4 separate regions of the Homo sapiens genome follow, and all the other regions are reported to be linked to region 1. The links are microRNA targets in miRTarBase. Many come from high-throughput screens and were not tested one by one. Region 1 holds a microRNA gene; each other region holds the end of a gene's coding sequence.
The links. The annotated mature microRNA hsa-miR-4677-5p reads UUGUUCUUUGGUCUUUCAGCCA and lies in region 1 at 1,774-1,795, opposite strand. An mRNA with a match to its seed (bases 2 to 7 or 8) in the 3' UTR can be bound and repressed. Matches are read on the target gene's strand: a 7mer-m8 pairs with bases 2 to 8, a 7mer-A1 pairs with bases 2 to 7 and ends in A, and an 8mer does both.

Region 2: miRTarBase lists CEBPB as a target of hsa-miR-4677-5p. Seed matches in the 3' UTR shown: 7mer-m8 at 2,909-2,915.
Region 3: miRTarBase lists LMBR1 as a target of hsa-miR-4677-5p. Seed matches in the 3' UTR shown: 7mer-m8 at 1,274-1,280, 7mer-m8 at 1,777-1,783, 7mer-m8 at 1,988-1,994 and 7mer-A1 at 2,295-2,301.
Region 4: miRTarBase lists ENTR1 as a target of hsa-miR-4677-5p. Seed matches in the 3' UTR shown: 7mer-A1 at 2,952-2,958.

The regions. Positions count from the first base shown.
Region 1 is chr1:243,343,727-243,347,982 of GRCh38, reverse strand. MIR4677 (microRNA 4677) reads right to left here and starts at 1,807; the gene lies at 1,728-1,807. It overlaps SDCCAG8 (SHH signaling and ciliogenesis regulator SDCCAG8), which reads right to left. Exons shown (of 18, transcript NM_006642.5): 12 at 3,652-3,768.
Region 2 is chr20:50,191,290-50,195,545 of GRCh38, reverse strand. It overlaps CEBPB (CCAAT enhancer binding protein beta), which reads right to left. Exons shown (of 1, transcript NM_005194.4): 1 at 2,878-4,256. The coding sequence ends at 3,475. CEBPB-AS1 (CEBPB antisense RNA 1) reads left to right here and starts at 3,477. Exons shown (of 7, transcript NR_125739.1): 1 at 3,477-3,882; 2 at 4,124-4,256. RefSeq lists an enhancer at 1,448-2,009 and silencers at 3,374-3,483, 3,904-4,256.
Region 3 is chr7:156,680,071-156,684,326 of GRCh38, reverse strand. LMBR1 (limb development membrane protein 1) reads left to right here. Exons shown (of 17, transcript NM_022458.4): 17 at 164-4,256. The coding sequence ends at 249. Among named protein-coding and RNA genes, the nearest start is that of RNF32-AS1, 22 kb to the right of the region's middle.
Region 4 is chr9:136,399,447-136,403,702 of GRCh38, forward strand. It overlaps ENTR1 (endosome associated trafficking regulator 1), which reads right to left. Exons shown (of 10, transcript NM_001039707.2): 10 at 2,476-3,441. The coding sequence ends at 3,342. It overlaps SNAPC4 (small nuclear RNA activating complex polypeptide 4), which reads right to left and starts at 724. Exons shown (of 24, transcript NM_003086.4): 1 at 688-724. RefSeq lists silencers at 382-491, 562-691, 762-971, 1,122-1,171 and an enhancer at 937-1,873.

The DNA of each region.
Region 1 (4,256 bases):
AGAGAGAGACTGAAGAAGAAAGGAAAATGTTTTATATTTTAGTTCTTTTTAATATCACTTCTTTCCTGCTTTCTGAACAAAAGGGTCCTGTATTTTCACTTTGCACTGGGCCCTAATCAAAGGTTAGCGGCTATAAAGAATCGTCTTCTCAGATTAATTTACCAAAAGGGAAGTTGACAAAAAAACTCTATTTCTGCATCACTCATTTCAGGTCAGCTCATCCTTGTCATGTTAGGGCCTCCTGCAACATGTCCAAATCTTAAATACAAGGCTGTGAAATTAATGCTGAATTTGGGGTTTCGGATGCGAGGAAGCTCCTTTTGGGATATGATTATCAGGAATGCTGCGTGGTAGCCATTTCCTTCACATACTTTGCTGTAGGATTAATTTATACCTCTTTAGAATGACAATGAGGCATTTTATAAAAATAAAGCATAATCAAAACATTATGTACAAAATTTAACAGACAACAACAAAGAAAGATGAAATTTTACTAAGAGTTCTGTTTATTTCCTATTAAAAAGGGTAACACCAGAAAATTGGACATACAAAAACATACTTGTTCTCCTAATTTGAATAAACCAACTGTAAAATCAACATTTTTGAGACAAAGAAATGTGAATATAGGCTGGGTGTTATTTGATATTAAAGAAGTATTGTTAACATTGTTAGGTATGATAATGACATAGTATGTAAAAATATCCTTCATAGATCCACATGGGTATTTATGAGTAAAATAACATAAGGTCTGAGATCCATTTAAAATACTTCTGCAAAAGAAGAAAAAGAGGTAGAGGAAGAAGACAGAAGAAGATGAAGATGAGAAGGTGGAGCAGAAAAAACATGACAAAGAAGATGAAGGTGACGATGAGGACAGAAGTAGAGAGAAAAAAGTGAGATAGATGGAATAGGATTGAGGAGGAGGACTGGCAAAATGATGAGTGATGGAATAGGATTGAGGAAGGGGACTGGCAAAATGATGAGTGATGGAATAGGACTGAGGAAGAGGACGGGCAAAATGATGAGTGTAGGTGATGGAAATGTGAGGACTCATTACAATATTCCCTATACCCTCATACATGTTTTTAAATTCCCCTGATCGAGTGTGTGTGTGTGTATAACCATTGCCTAAAAAAATTTCTCATAAAAATCAAAGAGCATATTTCACATTCTCCTCCATACCAAATGCCTCTTTTTCTGGTGCAAGAAGCATCCTCTGAGGCTGACAGGAATTCTCTAAGCTGAAGAGATACAAAGGAGTTGATGGGAAGGATAATCCGCCCATCGGTTCCTGACACAATATAAAGAAGAAAAGAAGAAAGTGGGTGGAAGCGACTGCCATTGTTACTCTCCTAACCTTTCCTTCTAATTATGCCAGAGCCAAGGCTCAGGTCACAAGGAAAATTATTTTGGTGGTTAACCATTTGCCCTATTTTGTATACATCAAAAAAGCTGTTGTTCTCACACATTCCAATCTCACAGTTTCCCACCCACTTTAAAAATGTATCAAGTGGTCAGATGAACTAAAATATGAATAAAATGACTATATTATGAAGAACACCTTGTTTGCAAACCTACAGATAGCCTGCTTGTGATGCTGAATTGTAAGATACACAACACTTAAACATTTAATCTACTTTATATTATTGTAGGTATTTCAGATAAATGCTCAACATGCCCCGCTTTTAAAAGTTAAATGTAAATTTCTCTCTTGAGTGCAGATGGTGGCCAAGCAAAGTAGTTCTTTGGTCTCACAGACAGAAGGTCAGGTCATGGCTGAAAGACCAAAGAACAATTGCTGCTTTGCTACTCCAAATCATCCATGGAATGAGACACCACGACTTCTTTTCTGAAACTGTCTGTTCAATACAAAACAGTTAAAAAGAGTACCTATAAGATTTCCTCACATTCCGTCTGGGAAAAAAAAATGGTAACAAGCACATCACTTCACAACACATCACAAACATCTTGTAACTGTTCAGAGGTTTTATTCCTAAAGCTGTGACCTCCTAAAAAGGCACATCTCTATCTAAAAACATACCACTAAACGTCATTATGAAAACTACTATTGTTTCACTATTATCAGAAAACGTTTACAAATGAAAACTGCTCCTTGTAAATCCTGCAACTTTAGCCTCCATACCATCACGGATTAATTAAAATGAGATTTAATACTGCAAATACTTCTAATATTGCAAATGCTTCTAAACAAGTTATTCCTTTACAAGTGATATTATACTCCTATTGTCCCTGATCTTTTTTCCTCTAGAAAATTATAATGGAATTTTAAATAACTGAGACTCTTTCCTGATGTATTTTTGCAGTTAGTCCAAAATATTATGCTGTCAGAATGCTGTAGAATAATACGAAAGGCCAAAAGTATGCCAATATATTGATTCCTTTTTAAAAAATTACAATATATCAGGAAAGAAAAGTTATCTGTGATAAACTTAGTAGACCTAGGCCTTCAGTCCCTGACAGAAAGCATTTTCCATTCCACTATCAGGCACGCCCCCAACTGGATGCAATAAAATGTTTCATTATTTGTACATGTTAATAATTAAAAGTCTTCTGAAAATGTAAAACCCATTACAACACCAAATATAGTGGTACAAAAGCAGAATTTTACTTTGGTTGCCAGGATTTTAATTTAGTACTAAGGATTTCAGTTATGACTTGAAAAGCTTTTTGTTCTAGTCTTCATTATCACTTTCATTTTCAATACTTTTCCCAATTGTCTTTGCATCATTTGTTGTAAAGACTTCATTGGCTCAAAAGAGAAAATATGTTGGAAAATATGATGAAAAACCTCGAACTAGAAACATATTTGAAAAAAAACTTATTTGGAGCGACCTACTTCTAAATTCTAAAACAATTATTTTAAAATATTGACACTAAGAACCCAGTCTTACTATTTTAATTGAATAAACAACCTGCTTTCATTGAATACAAAGAATGAAAACCTTCAAGGTCCTGTACTGTAACATAAAAATAGAAAATCAAAAGTCAGCCTATTAGAACTGCCTCTCTAAAAACTTTATCCATGTTGTCAACTAAAATTGGAGTTATCTACTTCATCTCAATAAAGATATAACATAAAACATCTGTTCAAACTGAAATTAAAGTACGCAGCTTTTATCCACTAACATTTCTAATGTCACTGTATTTAGGCTTCATGAACAAACGTATTCATGGTTATCTTAGTTAAAACTGGTTTCACTCTGCCAACAATCAATTTGATTGACATATTTACATATCAACTCATCTCATCTTACGAATTTTAAACTTTTTCATTTAAAATTGGATTCAAGTTGGCATCTTTCAAGAACTTTATGTATGTATATTTTAGGTTCAAACTGTGCATTAGAACATTTCTTTTTACTTTTGTAAGTAATAGATACACATATCCAAATGTATATTTATGACCTGTCAGATTGGAATTTTATATGCATGCTGTTGTATTCTCACCATTCATGTGAAAGGTGATAATTTTAGGCAACTATAAAAGAAATTTTCCTAACAGTGTAAACTGGATCATCCCATTAGTTAGAAACAATACAAATAAATAAATTAGGAATAAAACAACATCAACTTGAGAAAGAATGTTACTCATATCTATAATTGCTGCAATTATGCTGTGTCCTCTCTTACCTGATCTTTAATTTCAAGATCCCTGTTAGTTTTTGCTCTGAACTCTCTGTGCTCCTTTTCTGCCTCATCCTTCTCCATGTTGGTTTTATTCAGCTGATAGCGCATTTCTCCACACACCTGTTAGATTGTAAAAAACTGGATGATTACCTGCTGGAATCTACCAGGCAATGCCTGCAATTAGATCTTTTGGTGCCCCCTAGAGGTCATATAGATAAAATACAACAAAACTTTTCTAAGAATGCCATTTTCTATTAGACTATTCAACGTAGCTTGTTAAGATTCAGAAGCAACACCAGGGATTATTGATTCTAACAACTTGAAATTACAGATAAATAAATGCATAACTAAGGAATTTAAGTAATGTGCCCAAGATTATTTTATATAACAGTTTCAATTGCATATTATCAACCAAAATGCACTATCATCTAACCTTTAAATAGGTAAAGTTAGTAGTTAAAATGTTAAGCTATGTTATTATTCATTCACATTGATACAGTTAAATATTCACTCTATATTACAAAGTTTTCTTTTAAAGACTTCATCAGTTATGCTCTTTAAAAGGAAATGTATAAAGGAATTTTTGTCTGCTGATAGATATACTATTG
Region 2 (4,256 bases), not on the chromosome of region 1:
CACCCAGCAGTGTCTCGAGCGTTCATTTCTGACATCCACTTATCTCCTTGCTAAAATCACCAGGCCGTGGGACAATTGCATAAGATTATGAGGTGTGAATGTGTCTTGTTTTGTGAACTCTCTTGTCCTGAGCAAACATTAGTTGGGGTTCCAGGCTCCCACCTCCCAGCTAGCCTCAGTGGTCAAACACACTAAATGGGTCTGTGGTTAACATGACCGGCTTTCTCCCACATATCTAAGGACCCAGCACCTCCCTCTGTGCCAAGGGCTTGGAGTGGTGCTTTGCACATCTAAGCCCTTGTCTCACACCTGCTATTATCATGATTCCTCAAGGCTCGTCCCTGGCCTCCTGGGCTCGCCTCACCCCATCCCACCCCCTCCTGTTTCTGGATGTCGGAATGGACTGGTTCCTCCCTGCGAGCCCTTCACCCTTGCAGCTTGGTGAACTGTGGGGTTGGTGTTGCCCTAACTATGACATCTCCCCAAGTCCTTTGGGCACAGCTCCGTCCACAGTGCTCCCATACCAAGCCACCGTCAAAGCCCTCAACCTGTGAACTGCTTCTCCCAGCCCTCCTTAGAGGCAGCCCAAGGGGTTCAGGTTCAAATTCACTTTCTGTTGCTTCCAAACTGTGAAACTGATGTTTGCAGTTCTGGGGCTTGGAGTGCCTGAACTTGAGGTCAGGCAAGGAGCCCTCCAAGAAGAGCCTGGGATTTTAAACAGGAACTGGGATTACAAACCAGGCTCCCAGCCCCAAACTTTCCCCATAGACTTGGGAGTCGGATGGTTTTGTAACCTGCTCCACCTAGCCCACCTTGAGCACAAACCTCACTTCTGTGGACCTCAATGTGTGCTTTTAGAAATGGGTCTAGCACCTTCTGTGGGGTACTGTGGATGAGAGCAAGATGTGAGTGTGTGAAGAACTGACTCAACGCTGGTTCCAGGACAGCACTGGGGAAACAGAAGCGAAGCTGTGGGGCAGACGGGGGCGGAAGAGGGGCACCGTCTGGCCAGGCTGCTTCCCTCTCACCTCATTTGGGTGAGCAGTGGCCACCAGCCAACTCTTGGTGACAAAGGAGGGAGCAGGGATTTGAGATTTGTTCCTCAATTTCGACCCTCTCCACCTCCCTCCTTCCCTAGGTCCAGCCCCTCAGCCTCTGCCTTCAGCAAGTAAATCCTTGAGGTCAAGCCCACATTGCTGTCGCTGCTACTGACAGAAACCATCGAGACCAGTGGGGCTTGGGACTGAACTGACTTCGAGGCTTTGAAGGCATGCCCGGCCAGTTGTCCAGTTGCCCAGGGCTGGGAGGGGACGTGGTCAGGGCCACGCTGCAGGTCCCAGGTTGAAGTGAGGTTATCTGTGTCCAGCAATCTGCATAGCCCTCGAGCCACCATCAGGAGACACTGGCATTAGGGAGGTGGAGCTTATAGGAATCCTCCGCTTTGTGGCGGTGGGGGATGAGTGTCGCTGTCTGTTCCCCACATCCCAGGCTCCCACAGGGAAAGCACAACCAGGCCCCCAAAAGGAAAAGGAGGGGCAAAGCATTTCCCATTCGCGAACCACGGTATCAGCAACTGCTCCTGAGATCCCAGACCGCCCCAGGTCCTTGGCAAACCAGGCTACGATGCCTGCTGCCCCTGAATTCCTCAGGGCAGGGCAACCCCCAACCAGTGTCTTGCCCATAGGGATCGGACAGCCCAAAGCTGCTCCCCACCTCTAAAAACAGGCGTCATAACAATCCCCACCTTCCCAAAGGTTATTGTGAGGTCTAAATGGGATGGGGCAGGTCCAGTGTTTACCAGATGCCGGCCCCTGGCAAGTACTGGCCACACTGGCGCTGCACTGGAGACTGGGGTGCCAAATGCCAGCAGCTTCCCAGCAAAAAATAATAACAAGAGCAAGCGCTTATATAACACTTCTTGCGTGCCAGGCACTGTGGGACGCTGTACATGTATCCACTCACATCCATCTACATCCTCAACTCTCAGGAATGCCATCCAGGGCTGGATGGGAGTAGGGGGTGCGGTGAGAAGCCGGAAGGGGCAAAGGGATCAGTGGGCAGGGAAGAGGAGCCTGTCCCAGGGAATCAGGGCTAGCAGCCCCACGTTTGTGCCTGGGCTCAGCCACCTTGAGCAGGCAGGTGAGGTGGGCTCAGTGTCCAAGTCTGGGCAAAGAGAGCAAGTGATGAGCCTCCCATCCTCAGGAAAGGTAATCAAAGTGTGGGAACCCCTCCCCCACCTCTCTCCACCTGGCCTGGCCTCTCCCCTCCTGCTGGCCAGGGACACACAAACACAGACTCGCCCACACACCCAGGCTCCCCTCTTTAAAATACACATGTATACACAAACTGTGTTTTAAACAACCCACCCCACTACACTGACCAAAAGCATCTGCCCTGACTCGGGCTCAGCAGGACCAAGACCTGAACCCCCTCCTCCTACAGTCACAGGCCTGCCTACCTAGTCCCCAAACACAGGGCAGGGGTCACAGACCTCCCAGCCCTTCCAAACCCAAGCCTGACACTCGGGACCAGCCAGAGGCTCCGGAATCTCTTCTCAAGCAGGGTTCCCAGCCACCCGTCCCGGCGCCTAGGGGCTCTGAGTCAGCCTGAATGCCTGACCCATTACTCTTCTCCCCTTTCCCCCGGGGCTGGAACCCCATCTCAAGCAGACCCTGTGTGTGTGGGAGGGGGAGTAGCAGAGGAGGCAGAAAAACCAGCTGCAACACCCCCACCCAACCACCAAAACCTCCAAAAATAACAGCAGCCCCCCACACACAACCCCCTACACACCAGAAACGCAAAAACAAAATCCTACAAATCCAAAATAAAGTAAAAAAATAAAAAACAAAAGCCAATTACTGCCCCCAAAAGGCTTTGTAACCATTCTCAAAAAAAAGTTTATTAAAAGTGTTCTTAATGCTTGAAACGGAAAAGATTCCCAAAATATACAGACGCCTCTTTTCTCATAGAAATAGATTATTTTTTATAATACAAAAAAAGACCAAAAAACAAAACAAAACAAAACATCAACAGCAACAAGCCCGTAGGAACATCTTTAAGCGATTACTCAGGGCCCGGCTGACAGTTACACGTGGGTTGCGTCAGTCCCGTGTACACACGCGTTCAGCCATGTTTAAACCGATTGCATCAACTTCGAAACCGGCCCGCCCGCCGGCGCCTGGAGAGGGGCAGAGGGAGAAGCAGAGAGTTTATCATTCATCTGTACACATAGACGTTTCTTCTTTAAATAACACCACGGGCGGGAGCCCCATCTGCATGTGCGGTTGGTTTGGACAAAAATATAGATATATATATATAATAAAATATTAAAATTACCGACGGGCTCCCCGCGCTGCCAAGTGCCCCAGTGCCAAAGTTTTGCCGGCGCCGCCGGGGGCGGGGGCGAGGGCGCGGGCGCGGGCGCTCCCCGGAGTCTCAGCCCCGGCCGGCAGGGGGACGCGCGCGGGGGCCGCGCTAGCAGTGGCCGGAGGAGGCGAGCAGGGGCTCGGGCAGCTGCTTGAACAAGTTCCGCAGGGTGCTGAGCTCGCGCGACAGCTGCTCCACCTTCTTCTGCAGCCGCTCGTTCTCGGCCGTGAGCTCCAGGACCTTGTGCTGCGTCTCCAGGTTGCGCATCTTGGCCTTGTCGCGGCTCTTGCGCACGGCGATGTTGTTGCGCTCGCGCCGGATCTTGTACTCGTCGCTGTGCTTGTCCACGGTCTTCTTGGCCTTGCTCTTGACCTGCGAGGGCGCCGGCGCGGCCCCCGCGTAGCAGGCGGTCGGGGGCGCCTTGGCGTCAGCGGGGCTCGGCGTGCCGGGCGGGCTGGACGAGGAGGACGTGGAGAGGCTCCCGCTGCTGCCGCTCGGCACCGCCTGGTAGCCGAGGTAAGCGCGCAGCGCGTACGGGAAGCCCGCCGCCATGCCTGCGCCGCCGCCCGGCGCCCCGGCCTCCTCCTTCCGCTTGCAGTCCGCGGGCTCGAAGCCCGGCTCCGCCTTGAGCTCGGCGGGCGGCGGCGGCGGCGGGGGCGGTGGGTGCAGGGGCGCGAAGCAGCCGGGGTGCAGCGCGCCCTTGGCGGCCCCCAGGCGCCCCAGGCTCACGTAGCCGTACTCGGCCGGCTTCTTGCAGTTCTTGCCCCCGTAGTCGTCGGAGAAGAGGTCGGAGAGGAAGTCGTGGTGCTGCCCGGAGGAGGCGGGCGCGGGGGCGGGCGCGGGCGGAGCCGCCTCGAAGGTGTCCGTGGCCGTGGCGGGCGCCGGGGCCT
Region 3 (4,256 bases), not on the chromosome of region 1:
AGTAGGGAGAAGAAATCATTCATTCCTCAAGGGGATCTGGCCAGCACCTCACAGCTTTCCAAATAACACTTAGCTTTGTAAATCTCCTCTTCTCCCTACCCTAACCCTTTCCCAGCCACTCAGCAATATATCATTTCTCACCATTTTCTTAATTTTTTTGCAGGGCTTCATAAACTTCACTTACCAAATACTTCAAGGGATTCAGAAACAGCCAAGCCTTCTGTAAATGGGCATCAGAAAGCACTGTGAGACGCACAGACGGCGTCTTCTGCCACCAAGAGACCCGAGAACTCCAGATTCACGACATTCCTGTCCCATGTAGAAGCATTTCCATTCAACCGTGGCCCCTCTTCAGAACCTAGACCTATCAGTGCCATTTTTTTTTCATAATCTACGAAGAACTTGGCTATGGCTGATCTTTTTTAAATTTAACTTTCTGATGGACCCTGTAGTTTCCAGTTAAGTGCAGATTCCTTACAGACATATAGAACAGCGCATTCTTCTGTAGACATTTGCTCATGTTGGTAAATACAATCACCCATATGAAAAAATTGTTTTCACCTGATATGAAAATGTTAGAAAAGGCAAACTCCGGGACTTCTAAAGATTTACTTAAATCCCATTATGTACTTTATTCAGAATGTAGAAGCTGACTTGAAAGGCATCCTTGGTACTAAGTGAAGCTTATTCAGAAAATGCATTTTTCAAATGCAATGGCAACTGCTTGTAGATATCATTTTTGCAGTGTATGTTGGAGCTGTAATGGTTGCAATTATGTTTCTTATTTCCTTAAAAGCAAAAAGCGTAGTTTCTGATTTATGTTATAGAATGATACTGATTAGACTTTGAGCCAAGGGGAAAATACTAAATTCTTTTAAACCTGGAGCCTTAGAGAGCCACAGGAATATCTTCTGTTGTACAGTCTAATAAGCTGTGGTAGGAAGTATCATGTAATCACAGTTTAATGACAGTTTATGTATATATATAATTCAGTATTCCCTCTGATAACATAGTTGCCAGTGTTTAATACACTTGTAACTTGGATTTTTACCTTATAGGCTATATGTATACTCAGTTTTTTAAAGCATTTTTTTCAGAGATCACTTAATTCCCCATGCTTCTGCAATGCATATAAAAACTATAAATGCCGAGTGGTAGAAACTCCTCTTTCTTCATAGTCCTCAGGCTTTGGTTACATTTGCATATGCCATTTGAAGCCTCCAGCTTTTACCAGTTTAACATCCAAAGTTCACAGCATCAGCATTCATGGTGTAAGAACAGTTTTGCAGTATAACACGATCTGATAATCATTCAGTTATTAAATTGTAAATAATTATTGGGATGGTTTCTTGGCTTTAAGTCCACTGAATAAAAACTATGAAATTGCACTCTGTGTCAACCATCCACTAGGATAGAATACCGAAATCTGTGCATGCAAAAATAGGAGATGGGCCCATTTGCACACAATTCGTAGTTATGCAGTCTGCTATATAAATATGTTCACATGCACTGTGTGTATGAAAATAGATGGTCTGTGTTCAGACAAAAGTAAAACATTTTTTTCAAATTGTTACATTTAAAGGTTTTCTGGGAGAAATTTATGAAACGCAGGCTGTGTCTATTTGACATCAGAAATTTCCACTTTAAACCAAAATAATAAGAAACTTTAATCTGTATATTTACAACCTTTGTTGAGTACACTTCCCCCTTATTTATACGTCTGCATTTCCTTCCGAGCTTCACATCTTTCTAAAATGCAGCTTGGTTTTAAAATAAAAGAACATTCATTTTGTGATTCTAAACAAGCTTCAGTAAATACCACCAGTATAGTACTGGTGAATTTCTCAGCATAAAATCGACATACCTAAAAAGTTAATAAAATTCAGCTCTTTTCCAATTTCATTGTTATGCCTATTGAAGTATTAATTGCCAGGTTTGATTTTTAGTGAAGCTTGGAGTCCATACTTTGAGCAGACCAAGTGAAGGGAAGAACAGAAAGAAACTCAGGAGTAGAGTAATATCACTTCTCACTTACACCACTTTCAGGCACATCCAAAGAGTTCCTAGATACTTGGAAAATGTCTGAAAATTTTTAAGTAAAATACTAAACTTTTCAGTGTTTAGCTCAACTTTTTGTTCATTTGGAAGTTTCTCTCCATCCGAGGACTTAAGCCAGTTTTGGATTTGTAAGCCCTGAGTACAATACACTTCCTGGAGGCATCCTCACTGCTGTTGAAGCAAAGGATATGCATGGGGTGGAAGGACGGCTTCGAACCTGGGACTCATATGCCTTGAGAACAAATAGATTGTTACAGCCTTGGGCTGCTGCGTAATCACGGTTCCTCGAGGCTCTTCCTGAGCACATGCCCAAGCATCTGCCTCTGGAGAGACTGACTCCAAATGCAGGTGCTTCCATTGGAGCTAGGTCGGAGGCTGCTTTATATGACGAACTCCAGAAATGGATGCCAGAATACGGAGGCCAAACGTTCTGAGTCCTGGTAAGGACAGTCGCTCTGGGGGTCCTCATTTTACTGCAGTTCCTGCACGCCAGTGAAAGAGAGGAGATAGACCCTGGAAGGCAGAGCTGCAGATGCTCATCATCAGGTCAATTCTGGAGCTACAGTTTTGTTTCTGACTGGATAGGGATGCACCAGTGACTGTCACATCAAGCAGTCCTTTTATTCTCTCTCCTTTAGTATCGATTTTAAAGGGCATTAGGCACTATGGTTCCAGAGTTTCTTGGGGAAAACTTGCAGATTCTTATTAATTGGTTCTGCAATACTTAAATAAATTATTTTACAATTATAAGTTTTCAGATTATAACATTTGTATTAATTTTTACTGATTTTCCAAGATACTTCTTAGATTTACTATTTACGTAGCTTTATGTACATTCTCTGTAAAAATAGACCTCTAAATATGAGGCTTTACATGAAATTTGTACACACATACACACTAATGTTAGCTCCTTAAATTGCTGCACTAAGGTGCTGGTTAGTAGAGATGGACGGAGCCTCTCGCGTTTTGCTCTCAGATGTGTTAAAGGCGCACGTGTACCTGCTCTCAGCGGCAGTGCGGCCTCCCCATCTGCTGGGTGCCCATGGCCCTCCCTGCAGCCTCAGTGATGACCTCGTCTGCCAGGGACACAGGTTTTCATCATTTACAGGCTCTTATGTGCTAGTTTTGTTGGTAGCACGTTATTTAATGCATAAAGGCAGAATTCTTACAAGTTTTTTTTTTTAATGTGAACATAGATGCAGCACCGACTTTTTAAACTTGAAAAAACTGGTATAATGTTAACTTTTAAAAATAACATTTGGACACACTAGTAATTGATTTTTGTTTACAGATTGTTTTGTTTACAAATTGTTAGTCTTTGTTTCTATGAGATACTTTTAGTGTGACTTTTTAAATGTCTTAGAAATTAAAAGTTGTACAAAAAGTGATTTCATATTTGGTTTATAAGCATTTATATGTGGGGTTTATTTGTTCTTTTGTTTTTTCCATCTTAAATATTATCATGGCTAAAACTTAAGGGTATTTATAGTTTAATTCCATTTCAGTTTTATAGAGGGCAGTAATTATTCTGATGAATGTTGAATTAAGAAATGGATATTTTCTTTCTCTGTTGTGCAGTTATTGGTAGATCAATTTCTTATAACCCACAATGTAGCATCAATAATTGATAGCATGTATTTTATTTAATTACTTGAATTATTTAGACTTGATTTCTCTAATTTTTTCCATAAAAGGACTGAACAGCACCTACTTGTGGTCTGGACAGCTTAACCCAGAGTTCCTGGAAGAATAAATGCTGTTAGCATCTGGTTAATTTACTGGCAGACAGAAGCCTACTTACAGTGGCTTTCAACTTTTTGACCACAGTAAGAAATAACCCATTACACACACACACACACACACACTCTCTCTCTCTCTCTCTCTCTCTCTCTGTCTCTCAGATACGTATAAGCAAAAATTTAACAAGACAGTACTTGTTTTTCCTAAGTGTGCATGCTGGCATCTTCTGTTTTATTATTTTTAAAAATACTAGACACAGACACTAAGTTACTTTGTGGCCTCCTAATAGATGGCAGACTTCAGTTTGAAAAGCATCCCTTTGGAATGTGGTTTAAAAGAAGAAATAATACAAAGACCTTTTTGGAGTTTTTTTTTTTTTTGGTTTTTGAATATTGTTTAGGTAAAAATTATTGCTGCAAACACAACTGAAGCAAAAGTACTGTGTACGCAAATTACTT
Region 4 (4,256 bases), not on the chromosome of region 1:
CCGGCGGAGACGCTTTCCTCTGGAAGCCTCACACGAGGCTGCTGCCTCCCCCTCCCCGTGTCGCTCAGGTGAGCAATGATCAGCAGGAAGGAGGTCAAAGTCACACGTGCTGAGCCACTGACATCAGGGGCTGTCCCTCTCCCCGCACCCCTCTCCCAAGGGCTGGTCATGAGGGCTGCCCACCAAGACGGAGCGCAGCAGGCGGTCCCTCCAGCCCCAGCTGCGGGGACGCCACCCAGACTCGGCTGGGCCCAGGGAACCCCAGGATGCGCCAGGACGATGGGCGTTTAGGCACTGGCTTGGGAGACAGACCCGGCCCAGGCCCAGTTCCGCCTCCTGCTCGCTGCGTGAACTGGGGAAACCCCCTCCGAGGCTCGGCCACCGCGGAATCGCCGGCGCAGTCCCCGAGACGCACGCGGGCGCCCTGCAGCCGGGGCCGCCCCGCCGGAGCCTCCTCGGAGCCCGCAGCCCGCTCCCAGCCGAGGGGCTCCCAGGGCCAGAATCCCCGCGCGCCCAGGCTCGGCCGGACGGGGGCCACGCCGGGCCTCAGTTTCCCCGACTTTGGGCGCTGCCCCGCCCCCGTCCCGGGCCTCGGCTATCCGCTCCTCGGGACAGCGCCCCCTCCACGGGGAGAGCCCTGAAGCTGCCGACGCCACCCGCGCCTCACCTGCTGGGCGCACACCTTACCTGGCCGCGCGGACCCCGCCGTCGCCCGGGCGACTGCAGACTCGACGCTTCCGGCGGCTGCAGAACAAGAGCGCCGCGCGCCGGAAGTCCCGCCTCCTGAGGCGCGGGGCACGCCGGGACGGCCGCTGCGGCCTGCCGGGACTAGAGAGGCGAACGGCTCGATGCTGCCCTCGCGCGGCCGCCCTGGGGGCCGCCTCCGCGCGCTCTGGAGGGGCGCGGGTGGACGCGGGACCTCAAGGCAGGGGACAGACAGGGACAGGCACCCGGCCACCTGGTCACGATCCGGAAGACCGGCCCTTACTGGCTGTGACCTTCGGCCATCGCTGGACCTCTCTGTGCTTGTTTCATCCTCTGTTAACGGACATGTTGGGGTTTGGTTAAGCAACGGATGAGAAAGTCTACGTGAAAGGCTTTTTCCCCAGCCTGCCCTGCATGCTCAGGATCGCCGAGGCCAGGCCGATCTCCAGGCACGTGCAGGAGACTGAGGCCAGAGGGTGGGGGCCCGCACCACACAAACTCGCTTCCCTGGTCACCTGTGCACACCCTCTGGGGTCTCCTGGCCTGGAGAGCTGCCCCGGGGCCCTCCCCTAAGTGGGCATTCATTCCTTCAGGAACGTGCCAGGGCTAACTCGGCCGGGAGCTGGGCAGGGGCCTACAGTTCCTGGCTCCTGAGAGCTTCTAAGTATCGGTGCTGCAAAGACATCCTGGGCCCAGCCAGTTGAGGGGGCCTCCACTCCAGCCTGGGGTGAGCTAGGGGCATCAGCTGGAGAACTATAAAGAGGGTTTGCCCTGCCTACCTAGGAGGTGGGCTTTTGGTGGCAAAGGGCTAGGCCCAGGTGAGGCCAAACTGGGAGCTAGGGATTGGCAAGAAACAGATGGAGGGGATGGAACCAGGCGGCTGGGGGCTCCTCGAGCGCCTCGTTTCAGTCCCTGCATCGGGCTTGAAATCTGGAGGCAGAAGGCAGGCACTAAATACCGCGCCACAAATTGTATTTTTAAACTTCTTACTATCAAACGCTTCAAACACAGACATCAAAAGAGAGGGGTGCGCAAAACCCACATGCCCATCCCCACCGCGCTTCCCTGGGCCCCACCTGCTCCATGAGCTGCTGGCATGAGGGCCAGGGGACCACCCCACTTCACACGCATCTGGTGGATGGGACCCGCCTGGCGATCTGGCCTTTGTGACCCCCACCCCATCAAATGCTGTCTCTCCCAAAGGGCCTCAGGGAAGGCCTGTGGCCTGAGGCATCCTCCCCAGATGCCCCCATCCTGCTGCTACAGGGCTCCCAGAGCTGCCTATACACTCAGAACCTCATTCCGGCACTTCCCAACCACAGCACCCTGTCTCAAGTCAGCTCTGCCAACAGAATCCAGAGCCTGCTTTCACCAACCAGCAGGAGCAGGAGGCGCATAGGGCTACGCAGCAGGACCGCTCCACAGTGACTGCTGGAAAGCTCTGGCCTTCACCTGTAGCTAAGGCTAGGGGTCTAGCAATTCAGACGCCTTGTTTGAAAAATTCAACCACATGATCCGAAAAGATGATCCAATGCTAGAATCCAGTCTGTCCAGCTCTGAAACGTGCAGCTGCGTGACTCACACGTCCATCACGTGTGGGTCCCAGTGGTCAGGCCCAGGCAGCAGTGGTCTGAGTCTGCCCCTAACCCCAAGGGCTGAGGACCTGGAGAGAATCTGCCAGCACAAGGCACCAGTTAGGGCAAGAGCAAGTGAGGTGTGGAAGCCCACGGCGTTCTCCAAGGACTGGCTAAGTCAGCAGAGAAGAGACAGTGCGGTGAACTACAGAATTTATTAAATAAGAAAGCTATCAATTGGAACAGGAGGAAAAAAAAGTTTTAAAAAAAATCTATAGGAAAATAGTCAAAAAAGCATTTAGTGCTCATCGCCGTCCCTCTGAGGGGGGCCGTCAGAAAGGCAACTGGGACCTGACAGACCCGGGCACATACTTGAAATTCCTGAATTCTAACCTGCATTGTACAAAATGCCACTTGAAACGTCCACCAGAACCCCCAGCCAAAGAGGCACATCTGGACAGCTTCACAGCACGGAACGTGTGACCTTGGTCCCCGTGGGTCCCGGAGGAGGACAGCAGCAGCCACGCGGTGGCCCCTGCGCACTCAGGCCATGACTGCAGGGACCACCCACTGGGGCCACAAGAGTGACCCGGGAGCCAGAGGGAGCCCTGAGCATCGGCGGAAGGCACAGGTCCCTGCCCGGGGTGGCCATCTCAGAGGCACATTTAGTGTTTGTTCTACTTATGAAATCAAGGACAACCAATTGTACTTATCTTACAACTGATGTTCTGGGATGGGACTGGAAAACATTGATTCCAGAACCACTCTTTTTCTTAAAATCACTGGCTTTTATGACAATGTCTTCCAAGAGCTCATTAGAATCTATAAGATCGCAGGAATTTCGCCAAGAAGGGCTGCATAGAAACCACAGAGACAACTCGGCCAGGGCTGCTCCCATTGTGGTGGCCAAGAACTGGCTGAGGGCACGACACTGGACTCTTGCGATCAACACTTTACTCTGGGTGAAGACTGCATATTTAAGGACACAACTGCACATTTAGATCGAGCGGTGGTGACCTCAGGGTATACACGGAGCTTCATGCTGAGAACACCCAGGGGTCCTCAAGAGTCTTCCTCCTCGTCTTTAACTTCAGAAATTCTGTCTATAGATTTAAGGATTTCGGCAACAAGATTCAGTGTCTCAGCTCCGGAAACCAGTTGCCTGAAAACAAGCATGGATATCAGGATGGGTGGCAGCAGCTACTCAGCAGCAACAGGGTTCTGGGGGGAGAAAGGGGAGGGGTTGGTAGGGGGAAAAAGGGAGGGGTTCCAAGGGGTAGGGAAAGGGGAGAGGTTCTGAGTGGGAGGAAGGCGAGGGTTTCCAGGGGGAAGAATGGGGAGGGTTTCCACAGGGGGTGGGGGGCAGAAAGGGGAGGGGTTGGTAGGCAGAAAAAGGGGAGAGGTTCTGAGGGGGAGAAAGGGGAGGAATTCCGGGGGTGGGGGTGGGGAAGGAAGGGGAGGGTTTCCAGAGCGGGGAGGGATTCCACAGGGGAAGGGTTCTGGCGGGGAGAAAGGTAAGGGGTTCCAGGGAGAAAGGGACAGAATTCTGGGGGGAGAAACAGAAGGGGTCCCAGGGAGCAAGGGGTGGGGTTTGCCGGGGGGAGAAAGGGACAGGGTTCCAGGGAGCAAGGGGTGGGGTTTGCCGGGGGAGAAAGGGACAGGGTCCCAGGGAGCAAGGGGTGGGGTTTGCCGGGGAAGAAAGGGACAGGGTTCCTGGGAGCAAGGGGTGGGGTTTGCCGGGGGAAGAAAGGGACAGGGTTCCTGGGAGAAAGGGAGGGGCTGGGGGAGAACCACAGGTTTTCCACTCCTAGCTCCTCTTGGAGGAGACCCACACCTGACTTCACAGGAGACGGCTCCCTTGTTCACAGGGAGTGCTCTGGGGGCCAACACCGCCCTGCAGAGCTCAGCCCAATGGGTGGCAGACACTCACCACTGTCACAGTCATGGTGGCTGGCGTGTCCCCAGCCAGGCACAGCA